Linked DNA regions of Homo sapiens. The protein of the gene in region 1 purifies or fractionates together with the protein of each later gene. This does not show direct contact. Each region holds a gene or a part of one and is shown in the gene's direction. Other genes may lie near its edges.

Region 1 (3,747 bases):
GCGCAGGGAGCCCCGCCTCCGCGCCGCGCGCCGCCGCCGCCTGGTACCGCCCGGCCGGGAGAAGGTGAGATTCGCGCGGCCTCGCGCACACCCGCGGCTGGGAGCTCGGGACTGCGGTGACGGGAGGGGCAGTGTGGTGACCCACCCAGGATTTTTTTTTTTTTCCCGTGAAAGTCCTCAAGCCTGTCCTCTCCCTGGCCCGATCCTATTGCAGCGACAGAAAATCAGCAGCGGGCGGGTCTGTGTGGACCTGAGGGCCGCGTGGGGACCGAGGGGGGCTGTGGCCCAAAGAGTGGCAGTGAGTGGCGTCAAGGAACCCACACTCCGCATCTGCCACTCCTAGAGCCGGGACTAGCTCCCGATCCTAGCAGTTGCTCTCGAGATCATCCCGGGAGTTATTGGCGAGTTCTGGGCCTCTGGAGGTTTCCCTGTCAGCCTCCCCGGCCGCCGAGGGGGCGCGCGCCCAACAAGGGGGTCTCTAGCGGCCACCTGGGGACAGAAACAGTGACCCTGGGCGCGCACTTTGCCTCCCCGTTAGAGATGTCGCCCACGGGATCCTTAACGAGGCCTACCGCAAAGTGCTGGACCAGCTGTCCGCCGGGAAGCACCTGCAGTCGCTCGTGGCCCGGGGCGTGGGGTAAGAGTTTGTGGAAGGATTAACCTGCGCGCGCCGGGGTGGGTGCCTGTGCGGGGCGCGCGGGGCGGGCGGCGGTGGGTGCCCGTGGGGGCCAGGGTGAGTCTGCGCCCCTGGGTCTGGGGTGGGCATCCGCCACGGGTCGCAGTTGGAGATTTTGAAGTGGCACTTTAAATTTGCCCAGAGAGCTCTGGAAGAGGCAAAAAGGGAACGCGAGCCAGGGAGTTTGATCCGTTTTGAATGAAAAGAAAGAGAAACCAAACCAAACCTCTCAGTCATCCAAAACCTTCAGGCTTCCAGGGAGGTTTTGCTATAATTTTCTCTAAGCATGACTGTTTCTGGGGGAGGGGAAAGGGGTGGTTGTATTTACTGAAAATTCAAATCGAAATAATAAATGGCCAAATGTGGACACTTATGGACCCAAACAGTTTTGCTCACGCCAGAGAAACTGAGAGCACAGGGCTTGTGTGAAGCCTATCTCGGCAGAAGGCAACATTCTAATAAAGCCCGTGGGAAAACAGATTACATTTTCGCCATGAATAAGTCATGCAGTGAAAAATATTGCCTACAGCCTGTCGACTTATATTATTATCACGTTTTTCAACTCGGCGTGAGGAGGGAGAGGAGTGTTCATATTTGACTAGGAATTGCAGGATCGATGCAAACTCCAGGGCAGCAGCCAGACTGGCATATGTAGGGCTCTCCGGTTACTTTCTCTGTATGTCGCGGGTGAGAGGAACAGCGAGGACAATTTAGCGCAAACACACGAAGGGTCGGATCTCAAGGGGGCAGCGCTGGGAGAAAGGTTAGGCTTGAAGCGCGCGTCGCCTGCCCGGATCTTATCCCGGGCCCCCTCCGCAGGGTTTGGTGCCAGGAGATCCTGCGTGGGGAGGGGGGCATCGAGGGGCTGCCGTCTCGGCCCTCCCCACGGCTGCTTCCAGGCAGAGGCGGGCGACGCGGTGGGCAGTGCGAGCCCCGGGCCCTCCCCGAAGGCTCCCGCGTGGGGTGGGGCCCGCCTGCTCCCCGCGGCGATTGAACCTGTGTCTCCCGCCCCGCCACCCTCTTCCCGACCCCTTTGCTTGCAGTGGGAGCCTCGGCGGCGGCGCGGGGGACGACGCGGAGCCGCTCTCCAAGCGCCACTCGGACGGGATCTTCACGGACAGCTACAGCCGCTACCGGAAACAAATGGCTGTCAAGAAATACTTGGCGGCCGTCCTAGGGAAGAGGTATAAACAAAGGGTTAAAAACAAAGGACGCCGAATAGCTTATTTGTAGCGATGGGTTACCAGCTACCCTGTGTATACAGCCCTGACGCAATGAAAAGTCGTTTTCCAAACTGACTCAACAGTCATCGCTCGTGTGTTCTATCCAAACATGTATTTATGTAATGAAGTAAAGCCATTAAATGAATATTTTGATAATAATATTGTTTTTCTTTCTACAAAGCACTAGAGAATGCACAGATATACTTTGTGGACCAATTATTGATATATATTATAAATATATATAAAGAATATATATATATATATATATATATATATATATAAAGTATAGAGAGAAGTTCATACAAAGCGTGCACAAGGATTGAAAATTCGCCCGAGCTGTTTATGTTTTTATAAAAATAAATAGAAAAGTAGACAATCATTGTTTTGAATATTACTCCTATTTTTGTAAACTGGAATTAAAAGGATAGTATTTTTATCCATGACAGGCCTGAAGATATTACTACTTACCATTTGCTACTGTACATAAACAATGATGCCCTGCTCCAGGGAGATTTTGAGGTAAAGATATGGAGAATTGCTGAAGGGCATTCTTTCCCAGTGAGTCTCTGGGGCAGGCTGCTTCAATCCCAGCCTAACTCAACTGGGCTCTGTCCCCCTGGTTGGGTGGCAATTCCAATATTTCTGCTTTCTTTGATTCTCCTTTTATGTGTAGTTGTCTCTCTTCAGACTCTCAGCCCAGAAGAAAATTCTCCTGATAAAACAACAGCTCGATCCAAATTGTGCTTCTCCCCAGAATTCACGCCTCTCCCTAGGAGAAGAGTTGAGGAACTGTACAGAAAAGGGCGGCTTCGTTAGACCGCTCTCTTTTCTGTACTTCCTGAGTGGCCAGGGAATCTAATATCCCCAAATTAGGGCAATTGGAACAAAGTGAAGGACATAGAGGTATATTGGAAGAGGCAGAGCCTGAGGTGGTAGGAGGAGGACCCTGGAAATGGACTGGTTTGAGATTGCCCCAGGTCTGGGAAGCTGAGGGCAAATCCAGTCCCAATGGTCCTGACTTTGGGCGCTGGGTATTGGAAATGGATGCAAAGTACAATGTGTTTTTCTCCAGTGCTGTCCATGCTTCTCATCTTGTGAAATGGCCAGGATCCTCTCCTTTGAAACCTGCTCTGTAGGAGCTACCCTTTTCCTTTGTGGTTTTATGGAGACCTCTCCTTCCTACCCTCCTGCACTGTTTAAGTACTGTTTACCATTTTTCATTCACTTCTCTTAAACTTGTGAATGCTTCTCACTTTTTTTTTTTGTTTGATGCAGGCACTTATTGTAAATTTTAGAAACCCCTCTGTAGCCACTAGTAAGTAATTATGCACTAAATATGAACCCTTTGTTTCTTGTTTATTGAGTTTGTAGGTAAAATGTATTTTTCTACATTATTGCTTATTGCTTAGTAAAATTTATTTCATAAAACCAACCTTTGTCATATTAGAATGTGTAGTGTTCACATGTTGCTCAGTTTTGCTAACTGATAAATCATTTAATCCTCTTCTTCATATGTATGAGTACTATCTTATATCTGTGGTCAAGAGTGAGGTAAGCAAGCTCCAACAGACCCTGAGAACCTACGCTTGTATCCTTTCTTTGGCTAAAGAAAGCATGTCTGTTTCCTGTCAATTCTTTGAACATACAGAGTAATCTTTATAAACAAAAGAACCTTCACCCAGCAATCAGATCGAGCAGCAACAGACAAACCAGCCAGCCAATCTCCCAAATTTCAGGCACAAGTTTATTTATTTATTTTTTTATGTTTTGAAAAAAGAAGATGAAGAAGAAGAAAAAAAAAAGAACAAGGAAAGATTAAACGTTAGCTTGTAAAGTTTAAAGGACCTT
Region 2 (3,747 bases), on another chromosome or scaffold:
CCTTATTTCTGAACCACAGGAACAAGTAACTGTTTTTCTAATGTTTCTCTCAGAGTACACTCTGCTTCTAGTGAGTTCCAATTCTGTTTATTAAGATTTTCATACCCATGGCAGTGATTGATACTCCCACACTCCATATTCAATGTCAGCAAATTTGGTTGGCTTTCTTTAAAATATGTCTAAAATATGTCCACTTACCTCTCCACCTATTATTGCCTGGGTCCAAGCCAGCAATAACTTCTGACTGATCTCCCTTTTGCCCTTAGCTCCATTGTCTACTCTCCACACAGCATCCAAAGCAGTCCTATGAAAACATTAACTCAGATCATGTCACTCCTCTGCTCAAAGTAACATTCCTTACAATGGCCTACAAAGCCCTAGGTGCCGTGGCTATTGTTACTCTCTAACTGCATTCCCCATTCGTCTCCCCGTCTTTTCCAGTACATAAACCCTCTTACTGTTCCTCCAATCTGCCAGGAACATGGCCACTTGCAGCGACTTTGCACTTGCTGTTCTTTCTGCCTGGAATATTGTTCCTCCAGTTAGCTGCATGGCCAATTTCCTCACTCTGTCACTTAACTCCAATGTCACCTCCTCATGAGCCTTCTCTGGTCCCTCTATTACCCTCTCAAAAATTGTGAGTCCTCTCTTATTTTCACTTCATCACTTATCACTATCTAACATAGTATGTTTTGCTTATTTTTTGTCATTTTTTTCTCTTTCCCATGACAGTAGGGATTTTTGTCTGTTTTGCTTATTGCTCTATCACAAACGACTAGCGCAGTGGGTAATGAGTATTTCCTGGTTAATGAATGAATTGTGGGAGATCTGCACCAAGGGAACATATGGAGACAGACACTAGATCAAATGTCTCCTTTGTTTGCTCATGGTAAAACATTTGACCATCTTCTTAATCTTACGTGGTAAAAAATTCCATGTCTTTTGTTAATTGTGATATATGTCTTAGATCTCTTGTGAGATGTTTTAGATCTCAGGGAAAGCATTCCTCATTATTAAAGCATTAATTTGGTCACTAGGGGATGAATCCAATCTTATTTTCCAAATGTTATCCTGTACATTTGGCAGTCTTGCTAAGTTATATAGAAGGAAGTAGAGTCTATTATTTTAGATAGAAAATTCCCGGTCCCGACTCGCAGTGGTCAAAGTCTTCAAAATTCTAAGATCATAACACATAACGTCAGGAGGAAATATGTGGCTATTAATCATACTAATGATAGTGATGATGCAATAAAATAATTGTAATATGCTAACACCAATTGTATCTTAAAAAGAGGTACTGGAAATTCCATCTTGCATTCTTCCGTTTTTTCCTGTTATAGAAAAACGCACTCCCTGATACTCAGTAGAGGATCAACTTATTTCTAGTTAATCAGCATGAACGTTTCCAGCAGAATAGATGCTTTGGTGTAGCACTTGCCTGGGAGTCATGGTTAGCATTCCGCATTTTTTAGAGAGCTGAATTCAGCAGCCTAGGAAACATTAGGAAGAACACCTTCAAACAGGGAACAACGTCTTGGGGGGAAAGAGAGTCACTGCCTCCGCTAGGGATCCCGAGGGGGTACAAAAGCAACAACAATAAAAACTCGTGGAGAGTAGGTTCCACGACATGCGCATGCGACGAACTCCCGCACTCAGCGGGGCAGGTTTCGTCCTTCATCTTCTCAGTCGGCAGGACCTGCTTCTCGCTGAGGATGAGTGAGGACAGCCGCAGCTCGGCGGGGACGGCCCGGTAGCCTAGAGCGCCGGCACCCGAGTCCCGCCGCCGGAGCCGCGCCTGGAGCCGCGGTGGGGGAGGGGCAGCGGCGGCCCGCGCTGCGTCGAGCTTCCCAGAATTCCCAGCGGCCGCGGGGAAAGTTTACGGGATGTAGGCGGCGGCGGCGGTAGTGGTAGCGGTTATTCGGCGGCCCGCGGCGGACCATGGCCCTGGCCCTGGCCCGGCGTCGCTGGGCTTTCCTCACGGCGTCCCCGAGCAGCGTCGCAGAGCGGGCCGACTTCCGGGAAGGAACTGACCAGCGACTGAGCGGCGGCCGGCGCGCTTAGCGCCCTGAACATGCGGCAGTCCCTGCGGGCGACCCCGGGCTCCGGACAGGCGGCGGCGGAGGCGGCGGCTCGGGAGGGAAGGAGGCGGCGGCGCCGGCGGAGGTGGCGGCGGAGACGGCCGGCGCCCGGCGCGGAGCCCTAGGGAGGCAGTTCAGCGCGGCCTCGGGCCTCGTCGAGAAGGATGCTGTCCCGAAAGAAAACCAAAAACGAAGTGTCCAAGCCGGCCGAGGTGCAGGGGAAGTACGTGAAGAAGGAGACGTCGCCTCTGCTTCGGAGTGAGTGTCAGGCGGGGCGTGCCCACACCTGGCCCAGGCGGCCAGGTGCTCCGGGGACCCTGGCGGGGGCGCCGGCGGGTCTCCAGGGCTTCTCCTTCGTCCTTGGTCGCGTGAAATACTGGTTTTGAGATTTTCTTGTGTCTGAAGTGGTATTCGTTGATTGAAAGCCCATAAGAGTAAGAAACTTGGGTTAGTCCCCCCCGCGCCTAACCCCCCCAAGAGCACCCCCTAAAAATAACAGACTTCCTCGCCCCACCAGGCAGAGTTGTTGGTTTTGATTACTGGAAGAGAGAGTAGGAAACATTTAAATTGCTTATCACCTAATGCTATAGGAGTAAAAGTAATTAGACAGGGACACTTTTTACTCTTTTAGATGCGTCGAGATGTGCGTCATGTTTGCAAACATTGCGGGTGTCTCTCGACTGTGCTGCAAGTTGTGCGAACTCTGGGGCAGAATTCCTTAGTCCTGCTGCCGGATGCAGACTTGAGAAGGTGAAAAGCATACCGTCGTTCTTGTAGCCGCCACCCAAAGCCTCATCACTCTTACACAGCAGAGCAGAGAGCCAAAAGCCTTTGTATTTGGCTATATTCGTGAGATTCCAAGAAGGCAACTCAAAATAATTTCTATCGTATTAGAGAACCCCCCCCTCGAAAAGTTTTTTTTTTTAATAGGGTAGATCCCACTCCCAATCCCCACCTCCGGTCCCCCGCTGCTTTTCTTCTTAATGTAAGTATTTGATTTTTGAGTTGAATCTCTTGAATTTTTAATTCTTGTGTGTTCAGGACATTTGTGAGGCATGGAGCTGGTATTTTGGTGCTCTTACTGCGCCCTGGGCCCTTTGCTTAAGTTTCCTTCTTGGAAGCTGGTAGTAACCTTGTGACTTAAGTATTACCTCATATTGTAATTGGGAAAGTTAGGTTTCTAGTATTTGCCCAAGATCACACAGATGGGAGAGCATGTTTTTCCATCATAACCACATTGTCAGCCTTCCAGATTTATGGTGGTACTTGCAATACTTTCAACAAAATATATGTCAGTTGAGTACATCAGTAACTCGAAACTTGATTTTTAAGTTGTTTTTTTTTTTTTTTAACAACTTGATTTTCAGTCACACATGCAGTTAGGTTTCTGGCTGTTTTTAAGTGATAGCTTGCTGTTTGCTGCAAATAAAGTTTATCAGACATTACTTGAAATCGTGAATTATGTTTGTCACACTTTTTATTATACTTTAAGTTCTGGGGTACATGTGTAGAACGTGCAGTTTTGTTAATGTTTGTCACAGTTAAGCAAATAACTTTTGATCTACTTTGTTTTGTTGTCGTTACATCAAGTGTTGAGCCTTATTTATTCAGATATTTGTTTCTGTCCAGTGTTAGTTTCTGAAGCTTATTAATATGAGTGTCTCCAATA

What was found. Proteins that work in one complex are often made in the same cells at the same time.
Region 2: the proteins of ADCYAP1 (region 1) and SAV1 purify together in Homo sapiens (affinity purification with mass spectrometry; 4 studies listed by BioGRID and IntAct, with this or other methods). This does not show direct contact.

The regions. Positions count from the first base shown.
Region 1 is NC_000018.10:907,727-911,473, forward strand, and holds part of ADCYAP1 (pituitary adenylate cyclase-activating polypeptide preproprotein), read left to right. Parts: coding exon 1-64; intron 65-538; coding exon 539-637; intron 638-818; coding exon of another isoform or gene 819-864; exon of another isoform or gene 865-1,706; intron 1,707-1,719; coding exon 1,720-1,909; 3' UTR 1,910-3,747. UniProt on the Homo sapiens protein: PACAP is a neuropeptide involved in diverse array of physiological processes through activating the PACAP subfamily of class B1 G protein-coupled receptors: VIP receptor 1 (VIPR1), VIP receptor 2 (VIPR2), and PACAP type I receptor (ADCYAP1R1).
Region 2 is NC_000014.9:50,666,463-50,670,209, reverse strand, and holds the start of SAV1 (protein salvador homolog 1), read left to right. Parts: upstream 1-1,903; 5' UTR 1,904-2,242; coding exon 2,243-2,336; intron 2,337-2,709; exon of another isoform or gene 2,710-2,828; intron 2,829-3,747. UniProt on the Homo sapiens protein: Regulator of STK3/MST2 and STK4/MST1 in the Hippo signaling pathway which plays a pivotal role in organ size control and tumor suppression by restricting proliferation and promoting apoptosis.